Homo sapiens: one gene and its partners. The protein of the gene in region 4 purifies or fractionates together with the protein of the main gene of each other region. This does not show direct contact. Each region holds a gene or a part of one and is shown on either strand. Other genes may lie near its edges. The genes, in order: TSC22D3, CPSF4, PPM1A, UBE3D, SUFU and BORA.

Region 1 (3,508 bases), on a different chromosome or scaffold from region 4:
GCCTCAAACTCCTGGGCTCCATCGATCCTCCCACTTCAGCCTCCCAAGTAGCTGGGACTACAGGCACACACCACCATGCCCAGCTAATTTTTGTATTTTTTTTTTATAGGGACGGGATCTTGCCATGTTGTGCAGGCTGGTCTCAAACTCCTGGGCTTAAGCGACCTGCCCACCTCAGCCTCCCAAAGTGCCAGGATCACAGGCATGAGCCACTGATCCCCTCTTGTTTTCCTTGACAATTGGGACCTTAGAGACTGGGGATTCTGAATTCGGTTTAGGTTTTGCCCAGTATGACATGCTCATTAGCAAACTAGAAGACCATTATTGCTGGTCATGGGGCTTCTCCAATATCTGGGGTAGACAGCCTTCTCCTAAGTGAACATATCCCTTGTTACTTCATTAAATTCCCTGGGTTTCTATCATCATACTTCAGCCATCGTTTTTACTTCTATTCAATTTAATGATTTGACATTTCAGGTTCCTGTTGGGTGCTTTTTTCCTTTGTCAACTTTCAAGGCCTCTCCTGCTGGAGAAGCTAGTCTCCCACCCCTCCTCCTGCAGTCCATTCCTTTGCCAAGAGGGCTCCTATATTTTTAGGAAGAAGAGCAGGGCACATTCTTGATTTACATCTGGTTTGTCTGCTTTGACCTGTCCCTGGCTCCCAGCTTCGTTCTTGGTTTCCTTGGAACACAAGAGTATAAGCAATTTGAGGGTAGGGCTGTGTTTTACTTGCTTGGTTTTCCCTTGGCTTTTAGTTATACAGCCAATATTCAATAAAGGTTTCTTCAGTTGGATGACTACTTAAATATTGACGTGGTCCCTTGTAAAGATTTTACAACTTTATACTGTGCTAGAAAATCCTTATTAATGTTTAAAAGTTGTTTTCCTTCCGTTTTAACCACATGCAGTAACTCTCATAGCCTGATGGAAGTCCTGATAGTGCTGTGTATATACATACGAATCAGTGAGAATGGGCATGCAGCCTGTTGGTATGTAAATGGTACCTGTAAACAATTGGGTTGGGGAAGAAGTGTATTTTAAACACCATCCTTTCAATCTTGTATTATGTAACTAATAACCATAACAGATTAATAACTAACACTTCTTGAACATTCACAATGTACCTGCATAATCTAATTTAATATTTACATCAACTCTTTGGAATGGATTTATTTATTTATTTGTTTATTTATTTATTTATTTTGAGACGGAGTCTTGTTCTGTCGCCCAGGCTGGAGTGCAGTGGCACGATCTCAGCTCACTGCAGTCTCCACCTCCTGGGTTCAAGCAATTCCCCTGTCTCAGCCTCCTCAGTAGCTGGGACTACAGGCGCACGCCACCACACTCGGCTAATTTTTGTATTTTTCGTAGAGATGGGGTTTCACCATATTAGTCAGGCTGGTCTCGATCTCCTGATCTCAAATGATCCACCAGCCTCGGCCTCCCAAGGTGCTGGGATTACAGGCATGAGCCACTGCGCCCGACCAAATGGGTACTATTATCATCCATTTTCATTTTATAAAGAAGGAAATTGAGGCTTGGAAAAAATTAAGTATCTTGCCCAATGCCTCACAATGAAGAGCAGAGCCTGAATTGTCTATGAAGAAAGAATTGTTAAGAACACTCAGTAACTAAACTAATGCTAAAGAAATTCTTGTAACACTTAAGAATTGTCTATGAAGCAGAGGTAAATGTGAGCTCAGAACCTTTCCAAATGGTCAAAATGTCCTTATTAGGTAGGGAAACCAACCATCCCAGTCCTGTGACATAGGACTGCCTGTGCTCAAACTGGAACAGTCCTAGGGAAACTGGGATGGTTGGTCACCCTGTTGTTAGGGGACTTCCCCCTTGTCATTTGAATATGCTTCTAATACTGGAAAACTTAGGAGGGAGATAGAATATTCTGGGCAAACAGCAGAAGTTTCCAATTTAAATGTAGCATATGAAAAAGCTTCCCAAGTTGACATTTGAAGAGCCTTCCTTAATTTTTCTGACCTGTAAGGTATAACAACCTGTAACAGGAGCTTTGACAGTATTCGTTGTGATTGCTGTTGCTGTAACCTCAAATTTTTTTCTAAGATTTTACCCAAAACCTCTTAATCAGCTCTATTCTACCTTTGACCCCAGAGCGTACCTGGCTAGTGTGGTCTGAAATACTCTGAATCCGATTTCCCTTCCAGCTCTAAAAACCCTAGGATTCTACCTTTAAGCTTCTGACCTGGCCCCAACTGGTTCCCATATATAAATGCTCAGAAAATGATAAAAATAGCAAACATTTCTAATTGCTTTATGTGTGCTAATTCATTTAATATCCCCTATTAATATAGTAACAAAGGGGAAGGATATAGATTCAGAGATCAGGTTTTCAAGAAAAATTTGTGCAAAAAATTATTTGTGCTTCTCTAAGTGAGTCTCAGAACAAGTAATTTCATAATGTATATTCCTGGACCTGGCTTCTGAGGTGGTGGCCACTCACACGGCATGATTTGAGTGGCTGCCTGCTGCAGTGCCTAAGTTCATACTATTTAAGATTCAGTTCTCTGTCCATGTACCATCTAAAATTCCTCTCCCAGAGCACCGCTGGTATGTAGACCACACTGTGAGAAACCCTGTATTAGAGATTGCAACGCATTGTCAACTAATTTACCATTTGATTTTGAGGATGGAGTTACTCGCTGTAGAGCGGTTTTGGGTTTCTGTGTGGTTAAGCCTGTCATTCTTTGCCTTTGTGATTTTTGCTTTTGGTATCAAGCTTCAAAAGTCCTTTCATAGCCCAAAGTAATTTAAAATAACTATTTCCTGAGTGCCTAGTGGTCTGACAAAGAATAGGCATTCTTGGATTAAGGGACCTTCTCCATTAAAAGCACAAATGCATTTGCAAACTTAACATTCATGGTTTGGATACTTCATGAGAACTCAGACTGGTAAGAAACTGTGTTTTTGCTGAGGCACAGATGTGAATCACATGTGCAAGGAGACTAGTAGGTGGGGGCCGGTCCTTTCACCAATGAGTGAGCCTGGTGCCCTACCCCACATCTACTAGTGTGTGTGTGTGTGTGTGTGTGTGTGTGTGAAAGAGAAAGAGAGAGATGTATTATATGCATATATTGTACATAGTACATATATATATATAGTGGTAAAATAGATATAAAATTTGCCATTTTAACCATTTCTAAGTGTACGATTCAGTAGCATTAGGTATATTAACAATGTTGTGCAACCATTATCATTCCCAAAATTTTGTCATCATCCCAAACAAAAACTCTGTACCCATTAAAGAATAACTCACCGTTTCCCTATTTTCCCCTCCCACTACCCCCTGGTAACCTCTATTCTACTTTCTGTCTCTATGGATTTGCCTATTTAGATATTTCATATAAATTGAATCATACAATATTTTGTGTCTGATTTCTTTCACTCAACATGTTTTAAAGTTCATCCATGTTGTAGCACATATCAGTACTTCATTCTTTTTATGGCTGAATAAAATTCCATTGTATGGATATAC
Region 2 (3,508 bases), on a different chromosome or scaffold from region 4:
TGTCCTGAGTGGCCTGCGTGGAGAAGCGGGAGCCCGGGTGGAGTCAGTGGGGCTGGCACGGAGTCTGGCAGAGATGTGCTCCCTGCTGGAAGGAGTCCCCAGGGTCCCCGCTCAGGTCTGCACTTCCAGGTTTCCCGGGAAGCAGCTCTGTGGGTCAGCGTGAGGCTGGCTCTGGTCCTGTGCAGGGAGCCCGGCAGGAGGCTGGAATCCTGCAGGGAGCCAGGGAGTGCAGGGTATGCTTCATGCTTTCAAAGCACTGCTGTTGGAGGAGACATTAATTATTTCAGCATCCCATCAGGCGTGGCCTGCTGGCTTATCAATGAGAGCTGTGGCTTGTTTTGTGGAGGTGGCATAAGCTGAGAAGAAATAGGACCCAAGCTTCCCAGCTCCCCAAGTGCTGTCCCTGTCATTGTGCAATGTAGCATGTTCCCCCCGATGCCTTGCCCATAGCAGCACTGGGGCAGCACTGGGATGGGGCAGTGGCCTCCCATCTGTCCCCAGAGGCAGCAGCTGGCTCTCCTGGGCAGGCTCTTAAGGCACCGCTATACAAGTGGCCTGAGGGTCGCTCCTTCCTTGCTGACAGCCCTGGTGCAGGACGCACTGTCTGCAGCTTCTGTCACCTGCACCACAGACATTGGGTTGAGGGCCCCCTTTCCAGGCACTGGAGGGACAATGGTGAAGAGGTCCTTGCCCTGTGAAGCCTTCACTCTTGTGGTCCAGGGAAAGAGGTAGCTGATAGGCCATGAGACGAACAGAGAAGAAATTGCTTGTGACAAGTGCTTTGAAGGAAGGAAACCGTGACCAGAACCTTCTCTAGGCTGAGTGGTCAAGGATGAGGGGATTCCTGAGCTGGAAGCGGAAGACTAAGAAGGGGCTGGTCCTGGTACAGGGGGACCCATGTGGCTGGGGGGTGGCAGAGGCTGAGCCTGCGGAGGGGCCTGGGGAAGGAGTTTGCATTTCCTCTGGATTTTGAGCACAGTTGTAAACATGGATTGGAGAAGGTGAGCCTGGAAGCGGGCAACTACTCAGGAAGGCGGTTCTTGGTGCTGGTGGTCCCTGGGGTCCGCTGCTTTGGAGAGGGCCAGGTCCACAAGTGCTTCCCCTACCCTTGTCCCAGCTCTTAGATGTGAAGAGCCAATCAGAATGGAACTTCCTGGTCTCAATGGGTGCATTTCCATCACAGCTCCGCTGCACAGGAAGCTGGGGCTCAGAAACACTCTTCCCTGGCTCTCAGGGCTCGTCAGGCCAAAACTGGACACCAGAACCTCTTTTCCTTGGATGAAGCCAAGGTGGGCCTGGCCCCGGCCTTCCCAGTGGTCTCACGTCTGAGTTTCCCTGCAGGGGAGTGCAGCAACAAGGAATGTCCCTTCCTGCACATCGACCCCGAGTCCAAGATCAAGGACTGTCCTTGGTATGACCGTGGCTTCTGCAAGCACGGTAGGTGCCAGGGTGGGCTGGGCCCCGGGCAAGAAGCCAGTCCTCCCTTCTCTGCCCACGACCCTGGAGGCTGCCAGCTGGTCTACCTGTCCCAGCAAAACCTGACATTCTGCAGCTAGCGGCTTTCTCACACTCCTCATCTCCCTTGCCTCTCCCAAGAATGCTGGGTGGGTGGTGGTCCACCCGCTTTTTTGATAAGGAGGCCAGTGTTGGGAGGTGAGGTCCCTGCCCCGTCTCCCATGAATGGGGGACAGCCAGCATTTGAAACCATGCTCCAGCTCTCTAACTGGTAGAGGGGACATCTAAGTGACCGGACACTTGGCTCTGCAGGTCCCCTCTGCAGGCACCGGCACACACGGAGAGTCATCTGTGTGAATTACCTCGTGGGATTCTGCCCGGAGGGGCCCTCGTGTAAATTCATGCAGTGAGTAGCCAGCTGCTCCGCCCTCTACCCCAGCTCCCGGCCCAGGCCCTGCTGCCCTCCGTATCTTCCCTGGGCCAACTGGGCCTTGGTCACTGGGTGATGTCAGTACCAGGGCCAAGGGTGGGGGCAGGAGATGGGGAAGTAATCCCTGCTTATGGCCACCAATGCTTCCTGAGCCCGCAGGTGGCTCTGCCTAGACCAGGAGCTGATCTTTCTTGGGTCATGGGCCATCTGGTAATGTAATGGAAGCTGTGGGATACAGACAAACATGTAGCCTTGCATATCATTTAGGGAATTTGGGGACTTCCAGTTAAGAACCTGTGCCCTAAAGGAAAGAATTTCAGAGCCTCCCATGTGGAGGCTCAGGAAACCCTGAGCTTGGGGTTTCACATAGAATAAGTAGTCGTCTAACAGTGAGGGTAGGAGAGAACGCACCCATTTCACACAGCAGCACACTGAGGCACAGGGCTCAGTCCCTGGCCAAGGGCACATGGTAGCAGGTGGTGGCACCTGGTCAAAGGCAAGTCTGGGCTGGGTGTGGTGGCTCACGCCTGTAATCCCATAACTTTGGGAGGCAGAGGAAGGCGGATCACGAGGTCAGGAGTTCGAGACTAGCCTGGCCAATATGGTGAAACCCCGTCTCTACTAAAAATACAAAAATTAGCCAGGTGTAGCGGCGCGTGCCTGTAGTCCCAGCTACTTGGGAGGCTGAGGCAAAAGAATCACTTGAACCCAGGAGGTGGAAGTTGCAGTGAGCCAACATCGTGCCACTGCACTCCAGCCTGGGTGACAGAGCAAGACTCCATCTCTAAATAAATAAAATAAATAAATAGCAAGTCTGTGAGCCTCCGAAGACGGGTTTTAATTCTTGCTCTGTGGGGTTAGCACCCCTCTTGTGGCTCCATTTTCTTGTCCTTGGAGCCCAGTGCCCATCTGTCACTTTGGTTGTGGACCTGGGCTTCTGCCTGGGGTGGCACTGGGGCCACAGACAAGCCTCCCTTCCTCCCGGCTGCCTCGCCCACACTGCTGAACCTACAGCAGGATAACAGTCTCCAGGTCTGTGGGAACCCTGGTCCCTGCTTCTCACTGCAGGGAAGTGGCCGGTGCTGTCACTGGGTCTCACTCCCTGAATGAGAGTGCAGGCACCTGCAGGTGGCTCAGGGGCAGACCGTCACCAAGTGATGGGAGGAGGGGCTGACGCCAGAGTAAGACCCTGCGGGGAGGGGGGCTTCCCTGTGTACAGCTCCTGTGGCGCAGCAGGCACGCACCAGCACAGCCTTTGTCATTTCCGAGAAGCACTGGCCATGAGTCTCCCAGCTCGGTGTAGGCAGGGTTGGGTCTGAGCCCAGGCAAGTCAGTTCTGTTCTCCCCGCCACTCCTGTGGCCTCCCAGGAGCAGAGCTGAGTGCCAGCCACCACCCCATCCATGCAGCTTGTGTCAGTCACTTTGTGCTGGGGCAGCTGAGTGTGATTTTCCTAGGGCTGGAATTTAAGAGCATGGCCTGGCTTCTCTTCTCATCCCCTGACCCCACTCCTTCTCTTGTTCTCATCCCCTCTGGCTGCTGGTGACCAGCCCTCGATTTGAACTGCCCATGGGAACCACCGAGCAGCCCCCACTGCCGCAGCAGACACAGCCTCCAGCAAAGGT
Region 3 (3,508 bases), on a different chromosome or scaffold from region 4:
TCTCTGCAAGAGTTATAAGCTGAATGTTTAGTCTTACTACTTGAGCTTTGTAATAATGTGGAAGATTATCAAAGGTAAAAAGATTTTATCAGAGTGCATGTTTTGAAAGAAAGAGGGTGGGGAGGGTTAGGCCTCAGTGTCTATAAATGAAAAGCATTTTAGAGTTTTAATATTTGACCATGTGATATCTCAGTACATTTATGATATCCTAATCCTTTGAAACTAAGGTTTAATGGTCTGTAGCACTTGAAAGAGGAATGTAGTGATCATTAGACGTGATGTAATAGAAATAGCCTTGTACATGGAGTCAGAAGAACTTGCTCTGAGACTGTGTATGGTTTTAGGTAAGCTATTTAAACTCTAATCAGTTTTTTTCATCATAAAAAGGATAAGACATTATTATCTTGTCTCATGGCGTTGTCAGGAGGATCAAATGGGATAATATACACAGGTGAGCTAGCTCAGCCCCTTTATTTTACAGATGAGGAAGCTGAAGCCAGAGAAGGTTCTACAAACTTAAGAGTCAGACAGACCTGAGACCAAGGCTTACCTCTATTAGTTTTGTACTCTACATTCCTGAACGAATTGTTCAACCTCTCTCAGCTTTAAAATGGAGATAATAGTATCTTATAAGACTGTTGCCGGGCGCGGTGGCTCACGCCTGTAATCCCAGCACTTTGGGAGGCCGAGGTGGGCGGATCACGAGGTCAGGAGATCGAGACCATCCTGGCTAACACAGTGAAACCCCGTCTCTACTAAAAAACACAAAAAATTAGCCGGGTGTGGTGGCGGGCGCCTGTAGTCCCAGCTACGCGGGAGGCTGAGGCAGGAGAATGGCGTGAACCCGGGAGGCGGAGCTTGCAGTGAGCCGAGATCGCGCCACTGCACTCCAGCCTGGGCGACAGAGCGAGACTCCGTCTCAAAAAAAAAAAAAAAGACTGTTGAGGAATTAATGAGCGTATGTATATATATATATATGTGTGTGTGTATATATATATATACATATATATATATATAATGCCTAGTTTAGCATATAATACATGCTACACCCTTTCCTACAGATATTATAAATGACGTGTACAGGGTTTTATACATTGCTAACAGCATTAAGACTAGAAAATCAAGGCCCTTGACTTGGGTTCAGTGTTCTTTCTGCCACACTCTGTTCTGTTTTGTCAATAATGCTTATTAACTTATTCTTTGATGTTTTTTTAAACAAATGTTGACTTTTTAAAATTCTTCTGAGGGTATATATTTGATACTCAAATATTTAATTATAGCATTTGAATACTTAGATGTCTTTAAAAATGAATGTAGTTCCTAAAAGTTGTCAGTTTTTAAAATTAATACAAGTTAAAAGCTGGTTTATAAACCTTAGGTAGTTTTACCTCTTATTTCATATTTCTACTTATGAAGCGAATGTATTAGCCCCACAATTTATAATTTATTTTAAAGGTAATTTTATCAGGTACATATAACTACAGGTCAAATCCTATTGTAAACAATGCCACTAAAATTTTCTGTCATGTTGTATGGAAGGAGTGTGTGTACACATGTATATTTGTATTAGGTATCACTTCAAATTAAGTCACCAGTAAATGTTTAGAAATAGTATTGTTTTATAGAATTATAAAAAATTATTATTACAGTGAGATTAACCTGTAATGTTTCTCTCCTGTCTTTTGGAGTATTGGTTATACTGTATTCTCTCTATACTGTTCGGGGGAGGGGGAGTCATTGCACACACACACGCACGCATGCGTGCACATATGTATTTTTTTCTCCCTGAAAGTAACATTTTCACTAGAACAAGTATAACTGTAATTGGCACAGCTGTAAAGGTTCTCAAGGCTTTGAAGAGCAAAAAGAAAACTAAAATATTCTCAAATTTTTTTCTTCCCAGGGAAGTCGAGACAACATGAGTGTGATTTTGATCTGTTTTCCAAATGCACCCAAAGTATCGCCAGAAGCAGTGAAGAAGGAGGCAGAGTTGGACAAGTACCTGGAATGCAGAGTAGAAGGTGGATCATTTAACAAAAAATAAGTAGCTTTATTAAAGAAAAATCTTCAACACAATCAAACTTTAACATTTTAGCTTTTAGATTTTTATGTGTCTTTGACAGCTAGTGTCTAGTGTATGAAAGTGGAAAAGGACATTTCTGTAGTAGCTGTTAAGATGTATGCAGTTGTCCTATCACAGTTATATTAGAAATAACAACTAGTGTGGAAAGTAACCCACATTCTGTTCAGGATACTTTTGTTTTAAAAGGCTAAAATGTTTGTGTGCTTTAAAATTCTTAATGAATTCACTGGCATGAGTAATTTTATGCCGGGAAAATCTGATTTGTGGTCTATTTAATTACAAAGAGATTGTGATGGTGATAATTTGAATACCATCTTTCTATGAAAAGCTGTGTATATTAATTTTAATCTCTAGGGCCTTTTTTCAATAACTTGAAAATCACAGCCTCATCATTAGCAACTTTATATACACAGCTTTAAAAAATTTGCTTTAAACTGTTTCAGAGCTTCTTCCCTAAGCCATAAACTGTCTCACCTAAACAAGATAGACCTCAATAAAAGACATAATATTTCTCCACCTGGCAGAAAAGTAACTGCCAAGTAAGATTAAGAAATAAGTTGAGCATTTCTGGAGTATATTTCTCATAATTCTGCAGAGACTTCCAGTTTATTGCATATATGCAGTAAAGTGTATATATTATGCAGTTTCTCTAAGTGGAAAAACTTGACATGACTTTAATAGTGTTAAAACATGAAAATGCTGGTGAGCTGAGGTAGAAAAAAAACAAGAAAAAAATTTTAAAAATAGCGTTAAAATGCATTTTAGGCTCCTAATGTCGTTAATTTGCACGTTAAAGACCTCTAATCGCATGCAAGCATTGACCTACCACACCTACATCCCACTGTGCCTGCATTATTGAAATTACTACTCACTTTAATTTTTTTTCCCCTTTTTACTGTTTGATACCAATCATAATCAGTCTGATACTAGAATCATGATTGGTTTTGTTCTTTAGTACTGTCTAGAGCTACTATTTTGTTTTTATTGCTGTCCGCCACTTGATAGTCATACATCTAGTATGTGTTTGTACTATTTAGTATTGCATTCATTGGACGTACTATTCAACGAATTTGTCTCCTTACTGTTACCAAGGGTCTTGGAATTTTTATATTTTAAATTAATCATTCAATATAAGTTATTTATAGGTATAGTACAATTTTAAAATATTTAGAATGCTACAATCATTGGTTCAAACTATTGATTCATGGGAAAATTTAAATTCATAAGAATAATATGTATAGGGATAAGTTGATATTTAATGTATTGGCACTTTAACTTGGGCAGACATGTTTTCTTATTGGTTTAAAGAAGTAATAAGTATTTTAATATTTTTACTATGAAATGGGATCCAATTTTAGAAATGAATTGCTACTTTTCTCTTTAGTGTGTACACTTTAAGTTTTAGATGGAATTATGAAATATTCA
Region 4 (2,960 bases):
CCTGTCCCTGTAAACTGTCTATGTAGAAGCAGAATGTCGCCTGCCAGGGATGCTGCCCACAGTGAGCCCTAAGTCAGACTCAATGACTTCTGGTCTTCCTTCCTCTGTCTATTATAACAGGCTCTACTGGCCTCTCTTCTCATCTGGTATATTCACAGGCTTCTAATATCTCTTGTCAGCTGAGAGACAGGGGAAACACATGGATTTTCCTAATCATTATTATTAAGTTTTGAAGGGAAGGTGAGGGTTAAAGACAGAGGGAGTTGGCGGCTCTACAGAAATGCAGGTTTTATGTGCAGCACAAGACCTGCAGAGGTGGGGGACCAGTTAATGCCAGCCAGAGCCCACCGCTGCTTACAGGCTGGGGTACTTATAGGTATGGGTGGGAGGGGTCTGGGCAGTATGGCTTACCGCCCGGCAGGATATTGATAAGATGTTCCTATGATCAGGCGGTTTGGCCCTTTTTCCAGTGGGATGTCATAGGATGTTCCTTGGGCCTTTGTCCAGCAAGATATGATAGCAATGTTCCTTCAGTTGGGCCTTTGCCTGGCAGGGTATGATAAGAAAGTCAGGTGGTTGGGCAGGATGTTTCTCATGGTCCGAACCCCCATGGAACGTTTCACTTTGACCTGGGACTATGAAATGGTTGGGGGGGTGGGGGCGAGGCTTACAAAATGGTGCAGCTTGAACTAACAATGATCTCATTTGAGCTTCACAGTAAGCTCTTGAGGTTTGCATCAATTGTCCATGTTTACATTTTGTTTAGGAATCAACCTTTCCTCTTTGCTGCTCCTTCCAATTTGGTGTTCTCTTGATAGAGAAACTCAGCAGGAAGTTGATATGGAAACTCAGCAGGTGCCTTTCTCACCAGCACCGTATGAAGGGTAACATCCTTCTGAATTACTCAGCATAAAGCAGATGCTTTCTGCCCTGTGTGACCCTCCCTTTACCTTTTCTTTTAACAGAATAGTTAAATACACACCTCTTTTTACTGCATTCGGGGACTTAAGGACAAAATTTCCTGATGCAATTGACAGATGTCCCATACTTCCCCAAGAGTAGAATGTTTTTACTTCTGTTGCTCACGCCTAATACGAGCTTCCCAAGCCTCCCATACTTCACGATCTATCTCTGCTCTATACTTGACTCTCTTCCTCATATTGGCACAGTTCCCAATTTATTGTCACCCCTGAACTAAACCTTTCTAAACATTTATGATTGACTTTGTTAAGTTTGTTTCTGTTTTCAAAACTATTGGGAAATTAGATGCATTTGATCTAGGCCTCATTACATAGTCTGAAAATAGTTTGTTCGTAAGACTGTGTGAATTAATTTTTTTTAACTCTAGGTTTTAAGATGAATTGCTGCTGACCAACCAATATAAGTGAAAGTATCACAATGACCTAGGAGAGACTGGTATAATTACCTATAGGGATGAGGACCCAGAATCGCCTAGGAATGAGACTCAGAATTCTAAATATGGAAGGTCCAAAACAATAGTTGTGAATCGATGGAAATGAGGACTGGATTACTTCGTAGCAATATAACTTTAGTTTCAATTAAAACTCTATTTTTCTCCTTTAAAATGCGTGTGAATCATCTTAATTACTATATGGTTCATTAAAAAAAGACTAATTGGCTCCTGCTGTAAAATAAAATGTCTAGATCCACTAAGAGTCATTTTTCTGTTTAAACAAGCATATGATCTTATTGACCAGACTTAACCTGATTCTGATTTGATGTACATGCAGCCATTTTGTCATATTATAGAAGTAAAGCATTGTGGGTTTTTCTTCCTTCTCCAGGTGGCCTTTTTGAAGATGTAACTATTAGAGCTGGGCATTCTCCTCCCCCGGCAGACAGCTCTCAAGCAGGAGCACACCGAGGCCAGCAGTCAGCTCAGGAGGCATCAATTACAAAGACAAGAACCAGAGCTATGGGATAAGAGCATTGCATTGAAGTTTTAAGTTTACTTGTTTGCATGTATTCTCTAAGAGAAGAGTTAACTTTAGATCTTTGAAAACCCAGGACTGTGAAGAAAGTCATAGTAGCAGGTTGAGGCAAGTGTAGAAGTTACATCTCTATTTCCCACAGAGAGGAATATTCACATATGTGCAGTGTCAGCACCACCTGGAAGGTTATTACCTAATGGAGATCCATCTGTCCTGTGTGGAATCCAGTGAGGAATTTTATTGGTGGAACTGAATGTTAACTGCTGTAAATCCTAGGAAATAAACTTTTAAAGAGTTTCTCAGGATGATTTAAAACAAATTTTAAAAAAGAAAAGTAGAAAACATTTTATACTTTATTCAGAGGAGATGCTCAATAGATGTTTGTTGAATGAATGATTATCAAATTAAAGGATTTCCTATTTATGCAAATCTGCATGTTTCTTTTGTTATTTCCTTTACCATACATTATTGCAAATTAATAAATATACCTCACTAGCATCCCGTTACAGAGTTGTTCTATTCTTTGTGTACCAGCACAAGCGGTGAGGAAACCTTTCAGTGAGAAGGATAGAGCTACAGGGAATCCCACAGAGTACACGCTAGCTCCTAATTTCACAAGGAACGTTTGAGACTTGCCTAGAATCACACAGCTAGGATCAAAGCTGGGACTGGAGCCAGGCATGTCCATCTCCTCTGCCCAAGATCTGATCCATCTCTCTCTGACATCCTCCTTTCCTACTCCAGGATCAGGAGGACAGTCTGTGGATTTGCAAATATCCTTGCTGCTCAATTGGCATTAATCTCCACAGACCACCTGATATATCTTGCCTCAAAAACCCTGAGTTTTCTATCCGCAAATTTTCTAACACTTTTTTTTTTTTGAGATGGAATTTAGCTCTCGTTGCCCAGCTGGAGATCTCGGCTCACTGCAGGCTCCGCCTCTGGGGTTCAAGCGATTTGCCTGCCGCAGGCTCCCAAGTAGTTGGGATTACAGGCACCCACCATCAC
Region 5 (3,508 bases), on a different chromosome or scaffold from region 4:
CAGTCTTCCTTCTCCTGCCTGAATGAACACTATTGAGGTTAGGACCAATAACTGAAGCCGTATCTTGGATGGAAAAGGTGTGTCTGTGTGTGTATGTGTGTGTTCTGCCTTACCTTAAATATTGATAAAAAGTGAAGAAAGATACCTCAACTGTTGAGATTCCGAGATCGTGAATGACAGACCATAGTGAACTCTGGAACAGCCATTTAAAGAATGAGATAGCTCTCCATATGCTGAGAAGCAGTGATCTCTGCTGGGTGCTGTGGCTCATACTTGTAATCCCCGCACTTTGGGAGGCCGAGGAGGGCGGATCACGAGGTCAGGAGATCGAGGCCATCCTGGCTAACACCGTGAAATCCCACCTCTACTAAAAATACAAAAAATTAGCCAGGTGTGGTGGCACATGCCAGTAATCCCAGCTACTCAGGAGGCTGAGGCAGGAGAATCGCTTGAACCCAGGAGGCGGAGGTTGCAGTGAGCAGAGATCGCGCCACTGCACTGCAGCCTGGCAACAGAGCGAGACTCCATCTCAAAAAAAAAAAAAAAAGGTGATCTCGTGCTCACTTCAGCAGCACATATACTAAAATTGGAACGATACAGAGAAGATTAGTATGGCCCCTGCGCAAGGATGACATGCAAATTCGTGAAGTGTTCCATATTAAAAAAAAAAAGGTGCTGTCTAAGATATATAATTAAGTGAAATCTGCAGAATAGTGTGCTTCCATTTGTGTAAGGACAAAACATGGAAGGGAGCCTGTGGATGCATAGGCTGGACATATAGAGCACCTTGGCACCCACGATGAGAGTCAGAGCTGGTGAGAGACTTAGTACCCTGTGGGGTTGTTTTCCCTTGTGGTTATGTGGCCTTAAACAAAACTCTCTCTAAAGTAACGTACCTGCTTGAAGTGCAGTGGTGAGCCTGTGTGTGAGGAGGCTATGCCCTCATGGCAACAGCTACCCTTGGCAGAATCTGAACATCTCAGAGACATGGCCTGAGGATCCTCATGAGTTGTCTCTGCCACGGTGTGGGAGGCACTATTTAGACCTCCATTTACTTGAAGCCTAGTGTTCCTCAGGAATTCCTACATCTGCCTGTGGGAAAATGGTGATAGATTTCAAAGGCTCTCCAAGGTTCGATGTTTCCTTCTGAGTGCCATTTCAGCAACATAGGAATTTCGGTCTGTTTCTCCAAGGTGAAGGGCTTTCATTGCCCTGTTGCCTCTCTGTGGACTTCTGGCCAGGTGGCCCTACAGAAAAGCACCTTATTCTTTCTTGGCAGATCCAGTCATGGCTCCTGCCTCCCACCATGAGTCGGGATATTGGGGAAGCGAAGCAGATGCCAGAAGTCTTTCTGGTTTCCCAGGCCGAAGGAGCTTTCACACTAATAGCCTGTCCTTTTCAAGTCTGACAGAACTGGCAAGCAGGAACAATTTAGGTTTTTGGAAATATCCACAAACTCTTTGCTTCCATCCGGAGTGAATGCTTCTCTTCCTTCACAGGGGCTACCCTAAGAGGCTGGGAAGCCTCCCAGCCTGGGCTAGTGAGATCCCAGCCCAGATTCCAGGCCTGGATCTGGGGCCTTGAACAATGAGGATCCTTGTATCTCTCCCACAGAGAACACCTTCTGCAGTGGGGACCATGTGTCCTGGCACAGCCCTTTGGATAACAGTGAGTCAAGAATTCAGCACATGCTGCTGACAGAGGACCCACAGATGCAGCCCGTGCAGACACCCTTTGGGGTAGTTACCTTCCTCCAGGTGAGGCACAGGTTGGACGCTGGCTCAAGCCTTCCTGTGGGAAGGGTCCTGGGAGGACAAGGAGGCTTGAGGAGGGGGAGTGAAGGGAGTGGGAGGTTTCCTTTGGCCTCGTCCTGATTTCTGTTTCCTCTGATGGTTTGTCAGGTAGATTCAGATGGTCTGATTTAACCTGCTGAGATGGGAGAGGGGAGAAAGGGAAGGGGGCATTTGGTTGGGAGAGAATGGCTGTAGCTGAGAGGGAGTAATGGGGTGGCGGGTATTCTTTGAACAGTGAAGACCCAGTCTCAGGAACAGGACTTTCCAGCGGGAAGCCAGCTCTGGGTCGTCCTTGCTCTTTGCCAGAAGCTGTGGGAACCTGCCCAGCTTTGACCAGTGCTTGTTTTTGGTCACGAAGTCTATGTGAAGGTTCCACTGATTCCCTTGATATTTACACAAAGGCCTATCCCCTAATAAGGAAGGGAGGAGTTTCTCTGCAGGCTGCTATGACCTATTGGTGGTGGTTCCAAGCCTGATAGGTCTCAAAGTCTCTTGTTTACATTCCCCATGATACCAGACTGGGTAGGAATGGCTCCCTGAACCTCCCCTACTTCCAGAGACATGGCCTGAGGACACATCTTGAGTTGCTCAGGCCTTGGTTTTCTCCTTTGTAGCTAAGAGCTAGACTTGGTGTCATCCAGACACAGCAAGGGCAAGGGTCAGGCCTCAGGGCCCACATGTGGACCCAGCCATTTCCCAGCCAGGCAGCCACTCCCTCCTAAGGGAATCATCCAATCTTGGCTGCACCAGCTCCTGAGCACAGATCCTGCCTGTGGTCTCCCAACTGGAGGTGACTCAGAGAGCCTGGGTAGCTGACCTTCTTGGGGTGGGGGGTGGCCATTAACACACAATGGGCTTTCTATCCTGGGCCTCAGATCGTTGGTGTCTGCACTGAAGAGCTACACTCAGCCCAGCAGTGGAACGGGCAGGGCATCCTGGAGCTGCTGCGGACAGTGCCTATGTGAGTACCCATGCAAGGTGGGAGCGCGGCTCCCTGGGCCTGGGGGTGGGAGTCCCTCCACTACCCTCCATGTGGGGCTCCCTCTTGCGTTGTTATTTCAGACCCTGGTTTTTCACATCAGGGCTTCCTGACGACTCACTCCCTGACAGTCCCTGACCACGAACTATTCCCCTGTGTCCTAGGCCTGGGGCAGCAAACAGGGCAGGCTGTAGGCCCAGCCCATCAGCCCCAGACCCTCAGTTACCATTGTATCCCCTTTCCTTGTCCACAGTGCTGGCGGCCCCTGGCTGATAACTGACATGCGGAGGGGAGAGACCATATTTGAGATCGATCCACACCTGCAAGTATGTCTTGAGTGAGGAAAACCTTTCTAGCACCCTGTGCCTAGGCCTCTTCCAAATAACACTGGCTTTCATCCTGGGAAAACAGAGGACCTTTATGTGTGAGTGAGTAGAAATATGGCATCACTTGGAACTTGTCCCCTGAATTCTGCAGAGCACGTAGGGAGCAGAGGTTTCAGCCCAGGAAAGCTAGTCCTCAGACATATGTATTTTGGCATTTTAAAAGGATATTTTTATTGTATGTAAATTATATATTGGCTTAAAAAATTAGATTGCCAGCAATAAAAGATAAGTGTAGTGGATATTGCTTGCTTGCCCAGTATTCATTCTCCTGCCTCCCAGACTTTCTTTTAGGGAGCCACCACGGCCACCACCGCCCTGTACCAGACAGTAGTGTAGGTGATACTGACTCC
Region 6 (3,508 bases), on a different chromosome or scaffold from region 4:
CTATTTGTAATTCATTGATATGTTTCAATTGGAGTTGCTAACCTTTTTTTTCCTGTTAATTTCTAAGATACCTTACATATTGTGGTTATATTGGTCTTAAACATTTCAAATGTTATCTCCCATTCTGTCATATGTATGTTACTCTTTGTTCTTGATATCCTGGGTTGCATAGAAATTTTTATTTTGGTGCAGTCAAATCCATCGATTTTTTTTTTTCCTCATTTGATTGTGGTCTTAAACTTGTCTAAGCCCTTCTAGGGGAAGCAACCAAAACACTTGGAATAGAGTTGAAAAGTGATGTGATAATGTTGCTGTAGGTGTCTTTCTGGTCTGAGGAAGGCAAGGAAGGCATGCTGGCAGAAGATAAAATTTAAGCTGAGATTTGAGTTAGACTCTTGGAATGCAGGGGAGAAAAGGCAGGGAGGAGAGAGCATAAGATAATACCTAGAGATGAGAGAGATACCTGTTTCTTGTTTGTTTGTTTTAGGTACTCAAATAATATTTAATTAGATGGCAACCATGCTAGAGAAATAGACATGGTTTTGAAAGGCTTTGTAAGCCATTGAGGTGTTTGGATTTTATCCTAAAGACTATTGCAGGGTTTTAGGCAGAGAGAGTATTGATTACATCTGCCTTATAGAAGGTCACTCTGCATGCAGTGACAAAGTCATCTGCATCCAAAATTTTCTTTATTTACCCGTTTTGATAGTATTTCACAGGGAAATTTAATTTATTCAGCAACCCACTTACCCATTTTAAAATTTAGAATTGTTAGGTTACTACACTCTATTTTGTCATTTTATTTTAGAATTCCTGAGTTGTTTCTGGTTTTGGGGGGAGGGGGGGTTTGTTTGGTCCCCTTGCTTTTTCTTCCTTTTATCTTACTTATATTAGTCTTTTTGAGATGGTTTTGGTTTTTGAGTTTTTTTAATCTGGTGATTTTTCAATTTATAAAACTTTAGAGTTAAAATAATTTGCACCCATATTTTTAACTCTTCTTGTGAAAGAAACTATATGGTTTTATTGATCAAATTTCAGGTTTTGTCAAAATAATCTGGCATTTTAATCTGTTGAGGACATTGAGGGTAGCTAAAAGGTATCCCTAACCTTTTAAGGTTGACGTCATGAAGAGTAATCATCATTTCCTTAAAAAAAAAACATTACTTTGGGATTCATCAGTCCTACTACTGGGTATTTATCCAAAGGAACCAAAATTACTATTTCAAAGAGATACCTGCACTCTCATATTTATTGCTGCATCGTTAATCACAACAGCCAAGATATGGAGTCAACCTAAGTGTCCATCAACAGATGAATGGACTTTTTAAAATGTGATATATATATATATACACACACACACACACACACACACACACACACACACACACACACAAAATGGAATACTATTCAGCCTTAAAAAAGAGGAAATTTTGTCATTTGTGACAACATATATGAATCTAGAGGACATTATGCTAAGTGAAAAAAGCCAGCCACAGAAAGACAAATACTGAATGATTTCACTTATATGTAGAATCTAAAAAAGTCAGACTCTTAGAAGTAGAGAATAGAGTGGTGGTTACCAGACGGTAGGGAGGAGGGGTGGTGGGGGAGATGTTGGTCAAAGGGTACAAAGTTTCAGTTAGACAGGAGGAATAAGTTCTGGTGATCTGTTGCACAGCCAGGTAACTATAGCTGATAATGAGGTATCATATAGTTCAAAATTGCTGAAAGTGGATTTTAAATGTTCCCACCACAAAGAAAAGTATTTGAGGCAATGGATATGTTAATTAGCTTGATTTGCTCTTGTCATAGTGTATACATATATTGAAACATCACATTGTACCCCATAAATGTATACAATTATTTAAAGAAAAATGTAAAAAAAATATTGCTTGGTGACTCCTTATTTGCTGTGGTAATCCTTTAGTTTTATCCTTGTATTCCCTCAAAGGTAAAAAAATAATAGAAACATACCAAAATATATACTTATATATGCAGATTTTTTTTAATGTTGCAAAATAAGTTTCCACTTTCTTAATTTTTTACTTTGGAAAAAGTAATGCTAAAGCAAATGAAGAGTATAAAACATAGGATTTTTCACTTAAAATGTCTTACAGGCACTAACATAAATAGTGACTCTCCAGTTGGAAAAAAGCTGACCATTCATTCTGAGAAAAGCGATGGTGAGTATGAACACAATTTGAAAAGAAGGATGTTCCATATTAAGCTACATTGAATTCTAAACCCAGTTCAGGTAGTAACACTTTACTCTGGAATTGAAATTGTTTCCTTTTTTTTTTTTTAATTTATTTTTGTTTTTTTGAGACAGGGTCACACTCTGTCACCCAGGCTGGAGTGCAGTGGCACAATCAAGAGCTCATTGCAACCTTGACTTCCCGTTGACTTCCCGAGCTCCAGTGATCCTCCCACCGCAGCCTCCTCAGTAGCTAGGACTACAGGCACCCGCCACCACACCTGGCTAATTTTTGTATTTTTTTGTAGAGACAGCATTTCGCCATGTTGCCCAGGCTGGTCTCGAACTCCTGGGCTCAAGCGATCTGCCCACTTTGGCCCCCCAAAGTGCTAGGATTACAGGCATGAGCCACCAAGCCTGGCCTGTTTGGATTTTTTCAATGAGCTACATAATAACCATATGAGAGCTGACCTTTAAAAACAAGTATAGTAGAACAGATGCATCCAGCCATGTTTTAGAAATAGCACTAGTGTTTTGTTTTCTTGTTCAAAGCATGTGAATTGATTTCTGGTCTTGGAAAGCATTCTTTTGAAAATTGGTTAATGTGAGAAATCTCCCCCCAGATATAGGCTGGCTTCCTTTTCAAGTGCCAGTACCAGAGCCAGGAGTTAACTTTTACTATTAACACGTTTACACCAGTTGCGGAGAGTGTGGGAAACCACTTCTAGAAAGGTGGCAGGGTATGTGATAGAATGCAGAAATGAATAATTCCATTTGGCTGGAACATCACGGGGAGATGATTGACTGGGCAGCACATGCTGAATTGTATAGTGTATACTTTCATTGATTTATCCCATGTTTGAATTTGTTTATTTATTTGCTTGTTTCCAGCTGCTTGTCAGACATTGCTGTCTCTTCCTGTGGATTTTAATTTAGAAAATATATTAGGTAAATACTGTATTTGTTTAAACTTTTAATAACTTGAACCAAAGGTTTTGTTTGGCTGGCTTTTTGTAAATGGTAACATGGGAAATATGTGGCAGTGCCTCTTTCTAAAGAAGTGGGGAAACTGCCCTGAAATTTCTCTTTTTCTTGAACATGGTTTGAACTAGCCTTATTATCATAGTGAACTTTATTACTATAGACAGAAACTATAAACATTTTATTGATATTATACTAACAATGTAGCACTTAAAAACTAAGGAATAATTTAAGATGTAAAACATCAAATATGCAATTAAACTTTGCCCTCTTTTTGGGAAAAAATTCAAACATAGTGCATGCTGGCTTCTTAAAAGTTGAGTAACAGAAGTA

Evidence for each region.
Region 1: the proteins of UBE3D (region 4) and TSC22D3 purify together in Homo sapiens (affinity purification with mass spectrometry; one large-scale study listed by BioGRID and IntAct). This does not show direct contact.
Region 2: the proteins of UBE3D (region 4) and CPSF4 purify together in Homo sapiens (affinity purification with mass spectrometry, with the first as the bait; one large-scale study listed by BioGRID). This does not show direct contact.
Region 3: the proteins of UBE3D (region 4) and PPM1A purify together in Homo sapiens (affinity purification with mass spectrometry; 2 studies listed by BioGRID and IntAct, with this or other methods). This does not show direct contact.
Region 5: the proteins of UBE3D (region 4) and SUFU purify together in Homo sapiens (affinity purification with mass spectrometry; 2 studies listed by BioGRID and IntAct, with this or other methods). This does not show direct contact.
Region 6: the proteins of UBE3D (region 4) and BORA purify together in Homo sapiens (affinity purification with mass spectrometry; 2 studies listed by BioGRID and IntAct, with this or other methods). This does not show direct contact.

What each region holds. Positions count from the first base shown.
Region 1 is NC_000023.11:107,769,281-107,772,788, reverse strand, and holds part of TSC22D3 (TSC22 domain family protein 3), read left to right. Parts: intron 1-3,508. UniProt on the Homo sapiens protein: Protects T-cells from IL2 deprivation-induced apoptosis through the inhibition of FOXO3A transcriptional activity that leads to the down-regulation of the pro-apoptotic factor BCL2L11.
Region 2 is NC_000007.14:99,448,935-99,452,442, forward strand, and holds part of CPSF4 (cleavage and polyadenylation specificity factor subunit 4), read left to right. Parts: intron 1-1,183; coding exon of another isoform or gene 1,184-1,329; exon of another isoform or gene 1,330-1,335; intron 1,336-1,341; coding exon 1,342-1,437; intron 1,438-1,767; coding exon 1,768-1,861; intron 1,862-3,418; coding exon of another isoform or gene 3,419-3,433; coding exon 3,434-3,506; intron 3,507-3,508. UniProt on the Homo sapiens protein: Component of the cleavage and polyadenylation specificity factor (CPSF) complex that play a key role in pre-mRNA 3'-end formation, recognizing the AAUAAA signal sequence and interacting with poly(A) polymerase and other factors to bring about cleavage and poly(A) addition.
Region 3 is NC_000014.9:60,283,721-60,287,228, forward strand, and holds part of PPM1A (protein phosphatase 1A), read left to right. Parts: intron 1-1,903; coding exon 1,904-2,021; coding exon of another isoform or gene 2,022-2,044; exon of another isoform or gene 2,045-3,508. UniProt on the Homo sapiens protein: Enzyme with a broad specificity. Negatively regulates TGF-beta signaling through dephosphorylating SMAD2 and SMAD3, resulting in their dissociation from SMAD4, nuclear export of the SMADs and termination of the TGF-beta-mediated signaling.
Region 4 is NC_000006.12:82,891,888-82,894,847, reverse strand, and holds the end of UBE3D (E3 ubiquitin-protein ligase E3D), read left to right. Parts: intron 1-766; coding exon of another isoform or gene 767-884; exon of another isoform or gene 885-1,805; coding exon 1,806-1,826; coding exon of another isoform or gene 1,827-1,945; 3' UTR 1,946-2,458; downstream 2,459-2,960. UniProt on the Homo sapiens protein: E3 ubiquitin-protein ligase which accepts ubiquitin from specific E2 ubiquitin-conjugating enzymes, and transfers it to substrates, generally promoting their degradation by the proteasome.
Region 5 is NC_000010.11:102,590,968-102,594,475, forward strand, and holds part of SUFU (suppressor of fused homolog), read left to right. Parts: intron 1-1,614; coding exon 1,615-1,757; intron 1,758-2,668; coding exon 2,669-2,754; intron 2,755-3,025; coding exon 3,026-3,098; intron 3,099-3,508. UniProt on the Homo sapiens protein: Negative regulator in the hedgehog/smoothened signaling pathway. Down-regulates GLI1-mediated transactivation of target genes. Down-regulates GLI2-mediated transactivation of target genes. Part of a corepressor complex that acts on DNA-bound GLI1.
Region 6 is NC_000013.11:72,741,420-72,744,927, forward strand, and holds part of BORA (protein aurora borealis), read left to right. Parts: intron 1-2,117; coding exon 2,118-2,183; intron 2,184-3,085; coding exon 3,086-3,142; intron 3,143-3,508. UniProt on the Homo sapiens protein: Required for the activation of AURKA at the onset of mitosis.